2 linked regions of the Homo sapiens genome follow. The protein of the gene in region 2 purifies or fractionates together with the protein of the main gene of each other region. This does not show direct contact. Each region holds a gene or a part of one and is shown on either strand. Other genes may lie near its edges.

Evidence for each region.
Region 1: the proteins of FGD3 (region 2) and ARHGAP22 purify together in Homo sapiens (affinity purification with western blotting; one study listed by BioGRID and IntAct). This does not show direct contact.

The regions. Positions count from the first base shown.
Region 1 is NC_000010.11:48,451,425-48,455,073, forward strand, and holds part of ARHGAP22 (rho GTPase-activating protein 22), read right to left. Parts: coding exon 3,578-3,649; intron 2,738-3,577; coding exon 2,664-2,737; intron 2,002-2,663; coding exon 1,880-2,001; intron 184-1,879; coding exon of another isoform or gene 1-183.
Region 2 is NC_000009.12:93,013,448-93,017,096, reverse strand, and holds part of FGD3 (FYVE, RhoGEF and PH domain-containing protein 3), read right to left. Parts: exon of another isoform or gene 3,246-3,649; coding exon 3,099-3,245; exon of another isoform or gene 2,603-3,098; intron 2,171-2,602; exon of another isoform or gene 2,153-2,170; intron 1,361-2,152; coding exon 1,268-1,360; intron 1-1,267. UniProt on the Homo sapiens protein: Promotes the formation of filopodia. May activate CDC42, a member of the Ras-like family of Rho- and Rac proteins, by exchanging bound GDP for free GTP. Plays a role in regulating the actin cytoskeleton and cell shape.

The DNA.
Region 1 (3,649 bases), on a different chromosome or scaffold from region 2:
GGAAGCAGGCACCAAGGCTGCACGGTGAGCAGGTGGCAGGTTGGAACTGGAACCTGGGACCTGAGATGCCAGAACTCTCTCGGCTGCCCCACGTCACCCCTCTGTGCTGCTGACAACTGCCATGCCTGAATGTCCACACTCTGGGAGCATAGGGCTCTGGGACAGGGAATAGAGCCATCTTTCCTGTGTGGGGGCACACACATACAATTGCACACACAATGCACCCCGCCCACCCCCTAAAATACCCCCCACAATCACACGTACAATGCACCCCATCCACCCCCAAAGTCCCACACACACACACAACTGGACAATGCACCCACCCAGCCTCCCCAAATCCCCCAACACACAATCGCACATACAATGCCCACTCCCGAAAATCCCACACACATAAAATTACACACACAATGCACTCTACCCAGTTTCCCCAAAGCCCCTACACACACACAAGTGAACACACAAATCCCCTACCCAGCCTCCCCAAATCCCCCCATACAGAATCGCACAATGAACCCCACCCACTGCCCAAAATCCGCCACACACAATTGCACACACAATGCACCCTCCGCAGCCTCCCCAAATTCCCCCATACACAACTGCACACATAGTGCACCCTGCTCACCCCCCAGAATCCCACATACATATAATCTCGCACACACACAATCCCCCGTGTCTAGGCCAAGGCCCCTGAGATGCAGCCCCCAGTCCTGGGGACTCAGTTCCTACGGTGGTGGGGTGGGGGCCTGCAGCGGAGGTGGGCAGTGCAGGAAGGACCAGGGCATCTATCCAGCTGCCTCATTCCCTCCTGCCACCCTCACCACAAAGGCCCGACGCTAGGAGGTCCCCCGGTAGGAGGGAGGGCTGAGTGCCAGGGTGGACTCTCCCACTGAAGTTGACTAGGAATCCTGGAAGAAGTCAAGGAAGGAATTCTGAGGCCAAGAACCTAGGTGAAGCAGGAACTCCATGAAGCAGGCAGGGCAGGCCTCCTCCCTCAAGCATCTGTACCACCAGGCAGGTAGGAGCTTGTGTTTTCCTGGCCTCAAGGGGCCCTGGGGTGGGAGACCCAGCCAGGGCTGACCAAAGTGCGGACTTGAGCAAAAGCACTCCGCCACGTCCCTCAACATGGGATAAGGGCAAGAACAGCCTCAGCTGTGGGCTTCCTGTCTGAGCAGCACGTCTCTCATGCATACTCCACTGGGGACAGTGTTCCATGGGCCCTATGAGGTGGGCTGTCTTTTCTATGGCAGCCTACACCTGTGCCCTTTGCTAAGTCTGGCTGACTGGCCTCTGGTGAGTCCCCTCGCCTCTCTTGGCCTCAGTTTCCTCATCTGTAAAGTGGGGGCGATTACCACAGCACAGGCTGGTTGTAAAGCCTGAAATGAGATGATACAAACAAAGCACTTGGTAGAAGCTTACTGAAAGCGGCTGCTGTTGCTGCTATTTTTAATCACTTATTGTTATTTATCATAGAGAAATTCTCCAGGGTTTGCAAAGCTGACATCCAGGAACCTATGACAATTGCTTAATTGTAAAAGAAAAGCAAACATGTCTGTGTTCAAGGGCAAAAGTGCTGACCTCTCCCATCCCTCCAGCCTCTTCCATCCACAGAAACCCCTGGCTATTCTAATTGCACCCAGTGACCTGCTGCTGCCCATCGCAGGGCAAAGTTCCTTTTTTATCTTATAGCTGAACCTCATGGGGGTCGGGGGTGAGGTCTGCAGAAGTTCCTGCCAAGTCCCCAGAGATGGAGATGTGCCACCTGAGCCACCCCTCCTGCTGGCCTGGCCCTGGGCTGGGATGGTTCCAAGGACTTGCCGTGGACCAAGATGAGCCCAGACCCCGGCAGCACCCAGGGCCACCAGGTACACCTCCCACTTACCTTCCATGATGGTTACTGGGTCCTCTACCTGTGGCCGCAGAATGTTAGGTCCAAAAACGGTTGCCAGATTCTGGACACTCATCTTGTTGACATTTGAGTATGCCTGAACTTCATCCAGAAACCTGCAAAGTAAGGAAGCAGCAGTCATCAAAGAAGCAAGTTGTGATGCCCAGTCTCCTGTGTGCGGCCTGGACGCACCGCCACACCCCTGCTGAGCCCTGCTGCCTGTGGGCTTTTGCCCACTGGGTGTAGCCTGCCTCTGCCAGGCTCGATGAGGGAAGGCTTCCCCTGGGGCCCAAGAGGGCCATCAGAAGTAAAAGTCACTGGGACAAGGGCCCACCGCTATTTGTGTGAAAGGAGGACAAGACTCTGCAAATTGTAGTGGGCACAAATTCTGGGAAGTCCCAGACCCCAGTCAGCGCCGCCCCTGCATTCCCCTTCTCAGTGTCTAGGATGGGGATACATGAAGGGTTGGGGTCAAGGGGCAGATGCCGGGGGGACAGGATGGCAAGAGGCACCCAGGAGGGACAGAGGGTATGTCCCTTCTGGAATTATCTACCCAGGTCTGTTTAAAACCAGCTGCTCCCATGGGACTGTAAGCTTCGTGAACTCAGGGTCTGTGCTTTTCCACTCCCTGCTTCGTCCACGCTGGGTTGAGGCTGTGCAGGGTGGGGAATGACCCGGGCCCCCCTCTGACAAGGAAGAGTTGCGTGTCTCGCTGTGGGGTTGGGGGAGCGTGGAGCCAGTGCAGGAAAGTGTGGTTCCCTCCTGCCAAGCCGCTTACTTGCAGATGTATCTGAGCAGGTTGTAATTTGCCTGAGGAAGGTTGCTCACTTGTTTAGCCAACTCCAGAGTGCCCTTAGGAATGAAGAACAGAATTTCAAACACCGGCAATGAGGGCCCTGACTGTTCTCTGACTGCGAGGAGGGGTGGGCAAAGAGAAGGGAGGTGGGGGCTACGGCAGCCCAGCCCCAACAGACCAGAGGGCTCCACCACCTCCACCTCCCCTCAAGGAGTGGCCAGGGCCCAGCTGTGACCTCCTGGGAAGCTAACTTGCTTCCAAGGAGCTGGTGTGAGGGGTGAGCCTCTACAGGGCCCGTGGAGGAATGTCAGGGCCAGCACTCAGCTCACTTATCAAGACACAAATATTTGCCAGATAGTGAGCCCTCATCTCCCACATGGCCGCAGGGAAGGCAAACAGTCCTTCCCTGGCCCTGAGCCACCTGGGGCTGCAGACCAGCACCTGCACGGGTGGGGACGGGAGGGCTGGCTCATCTGTCCTGGGAGCCAGCTCAAATTCTTTTGGGAAGGAAGCAAGATATAAATAAAAGATGTCCTGGTTTCTGAGCCTGTGACGGGCCTGAGTGGCCTGAGTCGGGTGTGGGGAGTGTGAGCACCTACTGGTGTGACAGCCAGAGCTGGGCACACCGGACCCACCCCTCCCAGGGACCAAGGCCGCAGACAGGTATGGCTCCAGACAGCAGGATTCCCCAGCCCTCCCCGACCTGAGCAGGATGCCCTGGCCCCTCCCCCACCCAAGCAGGATGCTCCAGGCCCCCACCACACCCCCAACACAGCAGGCCTCCACAGGATCCATGTGCCATGAAAATTCATGAAAAGTCAGAGTCTGTGTCCTGAGTCTACAGGCTGCCACCCAGCCAGCCCATCTCCCAGGAGCTATCCCCAGGAGCCACTGACCTCCCCCTCGTCCTTGGTGAGCAGCTGGGCGCAGCTGAGGAAGTCCTCGTACCTGGCGAAGGGGACCACGGG
Region 2 (3,649 bases):
CGGTTTCACTACATTGCCCAGGCTGGTCCCGAACTCCTGGGTTCAAGTGATCCTCCTACCTCAGCCTCCCAAAGTACTAGGATTGTAGGCGTGAGCCAGCGAAACTACGTGCCCAGCTTTTTATAGTAGTTAGAAGAAACCACTTTTCTAGTGTTTCTCTACAAAAAATCGGTCATGGCTGGGCACGGTGGCTGATGCCTGTAATCCCAGCACTTTGGGAGGCCGAGGCAGGTGGATCACGAGGTCAGGAGTTTGAGACCAGCCTGACCACATGGTGAAACCCCGTCTCTACTAAAAATACAAAAATTAGCTGGGCGTGGTGGCGCGCACCTGTAATCACAGCTATTCTGGAGGGTGAAGCAGGAGAATCCCTTGAACCTAGGAGGTGGAGGTCGCAGTGAGCCGAGATCACACCATTGCACTCCAGGTTAAGAAATACCATTAAAAATAATGACTGACTAGGCTGGGTGCGGTGGCTCATGCCTGTAATCCCAGCACTTTGGGAGGCCAAGGCGGGTGGATCACGAAGTCAGGAGTTCGAGACCAGCCTGGCAAACATGGCAAAACCCCTTCTCTACTAAAAATACAAAAATTAGCTGGGTGTGGTGGCACACACCTGTAATCGCAGCTACACAGGAGGGTGAGGCAGGAGAATCCCTTGAACCCAGGAGGTGGAGGTTGCAGTGAGCCACGATCATGCCATTGCACTCCAGCCTGGGTGACAGCGAGACTCCGTCTCAAAAAAAAAAAAAAAAAAAAAAGAAGGTCATTCTGGACCATGCTACAGATCTGCCTGGAACCCTCCCCCCGGCTCCGGTGCAGGAGGACAGGAAAGAGCTCAGGACCCAGGAACCAGACAAGGGAAGCCGGCCCCCGCCCCAGCCAGGATTGCTCCCTGCAACCCTGGGCTTCATGTTTGGGTTTGTAAATAGGGCCCCGAGTCCCAGTCTCACAGGTGACAGGATTCAGTCCAGGTCCTGGTGCCATCCCTACTGCCCCCTGCATCCTCCAAGGCTCTGCAGAAAGGGGAGTTGGCAGCAACGTGGCAGGTGGGCCAAGCAGAGAAGGGTGGAATCCTGCCCTTCCAGCCTGGGGCACCAGGACTGAGACAATGCCTTGGTCACAGATAGGGTCTATGGCTTGGAAAAGCAGGTAGGGGTGCCAGGCTGCACAGAGGTGAGTGCCTCAGCGGCCAGAGCCTGGTGTCCCCAGTCCTGCTCAGTGCCCCTTCCAGGGGGACAGGTTTGAGATGGAGGAGCTCACCCACCTGGAGGCCTGAGATGTCCATCTTCTCCCGGACGCTGAACTTCTGGCCCATGAGCCGCAGCTTGGGCACACAGTAAAGGATCATGCTGTTGAACTGCAAGAGGGATGGCACAGGTGAGGAACGAGAGCTGCCCGCAGGTCCCCCCAGGGGCCCCAGTGAGCTTCTCACATGGGATCCTTTTCATTTTTTTTTAATGTTATAAAGTGAAAAATATTTTTAAAAGATATGTGCAGTAATTTTAACTATGGTTACATCTTTGAGTGAGGAGACTCTAGTCGCTAGCTTTATTTTTGTTCATTTCTATTTTTAAATTTTTAAACCATGAACATGAGCTAATTGTATAATTTAAAAAAAAACCTTTTTTTATTTTTTTGAGATGGAGTCTTGCTCTCGTTGCCCAGTCTGAAGTGCAATGGCGCAATCTTGGCTCACTGCAAACTCCGTCTCCCGTGTTTAAGAGCTTCTCCTGCCTCAGCCTCCCGAGTAGCTGGAATTACAGGCGGGTGCTACCACGCCCAGCTAATTTTTGCATTTTTAGTAGAGATGGGGTTTCGCCATGTTGGCCAGGCTGGTCTCAAAGTCCTGACCTCAGGTGATCCGCCCACCTCAGCCTCCCAAAGTGCTGGGATTACAGGTATGAGCCACCACGTCCAGCCAAACCAAATCTTTTGAATGAGCTACTGATACATTCACCAACATGGATGAATCTCTCAAACCCACATGGTGAGCTAAAGGAGCCAGACTCATCTCATGGCATTGATGTGACATTTGGGAAAGGCAAAATTCTAGAAACAGAGAAGAGATCCATGGTTGCCAGGGCAGGCGAGCGCTTGCTCACAAAGGGGTGGGACAAGGGAACTGGGGGGGTGGGCGGGGGCAGTGATCAAATTGTAACTTGGCCAGGTGAGGTGGCTCACGCCTGTAATCCCAGCACTTTGGGTGGGTGGATCACCTGAGGTCAGGAGCTCGAGACCAGACTGATAAACATGGTGAAACCCCATCTCTACTAAAAATACAAAAATTAGCCGGGCGTGGTGGCGCACGCCTGTAATCCCAGCTACTCAGGAGGCTGAGGCAGGACAATTGCTTGAACCTGGGAGGTGGAGGTTACAGTGAGCCGAGATTGAGCCACTGTACTCCAGCCTGGGTGACAGAGCGAGACTCTGTCTTAAAAACAAAAACAAAAACAAACAAAAAAAACTTGTTCTGTAACTTGATTGTGGTCACAACTGTATTAGTCAAAACTCAGAACTGTAAAGCAAAAATGAGTTTTAGTTAACGTAATTTTTAAAAACTTAAAAAAAAACCTTTCAAAGAAATAATTGTTTATTCAAGGAGAATCAGAAGCTAGAGGAAAATGGAGGAGGAAAGAAGAACCACATCTGTTTCTACCGCGCCATGGCACCCGGGGGGGTCTCGAATTACACTTCCATCCCACCTTCCCCCTCCCTCCCGGCCAGGGTTTGGCTCAGGAATAGTTGAAACTGTGATTCACTGCTACAGTTCTCTGTGCTGTCCTGGTTGCTACAAGCTGAAGTCTGCTCAGTTCTGGGGACGAAAGAGGTATGGGCTACGAGGGATTAAAAAATGAGATATTTGCAGCAAATGGGGAAGAGCCACTGGCAAAAGTTTGGTGTCTGGATGTGGAGGAGGGAGGCTCCCTATGGCTGGGGGAGGGATGCTGAGGGTCTCAGAGGGAGCCACAGTCCCAGTAGGAGAGGCCACAGAAGAGCCATGTCCTTGGGCAGCCAGAGCCCTCCTGGCACTGCCCTGGGCTTGAGGCAAATGGCAAGGGAGGCTCTGCGGCTGGGCTGGCAGGGGCCAGGCTCACCAGGAAGAGGTGGCGGTCCTGGGGGGTGCCGTTCTTGGCTGACAGTTTCTGGATTTGGCCCTCCTTGATCAGTTCATTGGCCGGGTTGACAATGTCTTCTTCCCCACCCAGCTGCTCGTACACCTCCAAGAGCTTGTGCATTTTCTCCTGCAAGAGACATGGGACTCAGGCACCAAAGGTCTGTGAGAGTGGCTGGTGACCTAGAGATGCACGGAGTCCTTCCCTGCAACCGTGGCCCAGAATCCAGAGAGGGCAATGAGCTACTGACAAGGGTGGGAGGGAAAACAGAGTGATGTTTGAGTTGGGTATTGAAGGATGAATAGGAGTTCACCATGCAGAGCATAAAAACAACGATAAACAGGAACAGAGCTAACCATTGCTGTGAGCCATGTGCTGTTCTACATGATACATGTTTTAACTCACCTAGTGAGGTGAGTGCCATTGTTATCTTCATTTTACAGACAAGGAAACTGAGGCACAGAGCGGTCAGTTGAGTATCTGAGACCCAGACTCGGACAATCCATATGTCACCTTCCCCTGACCATGGTGAC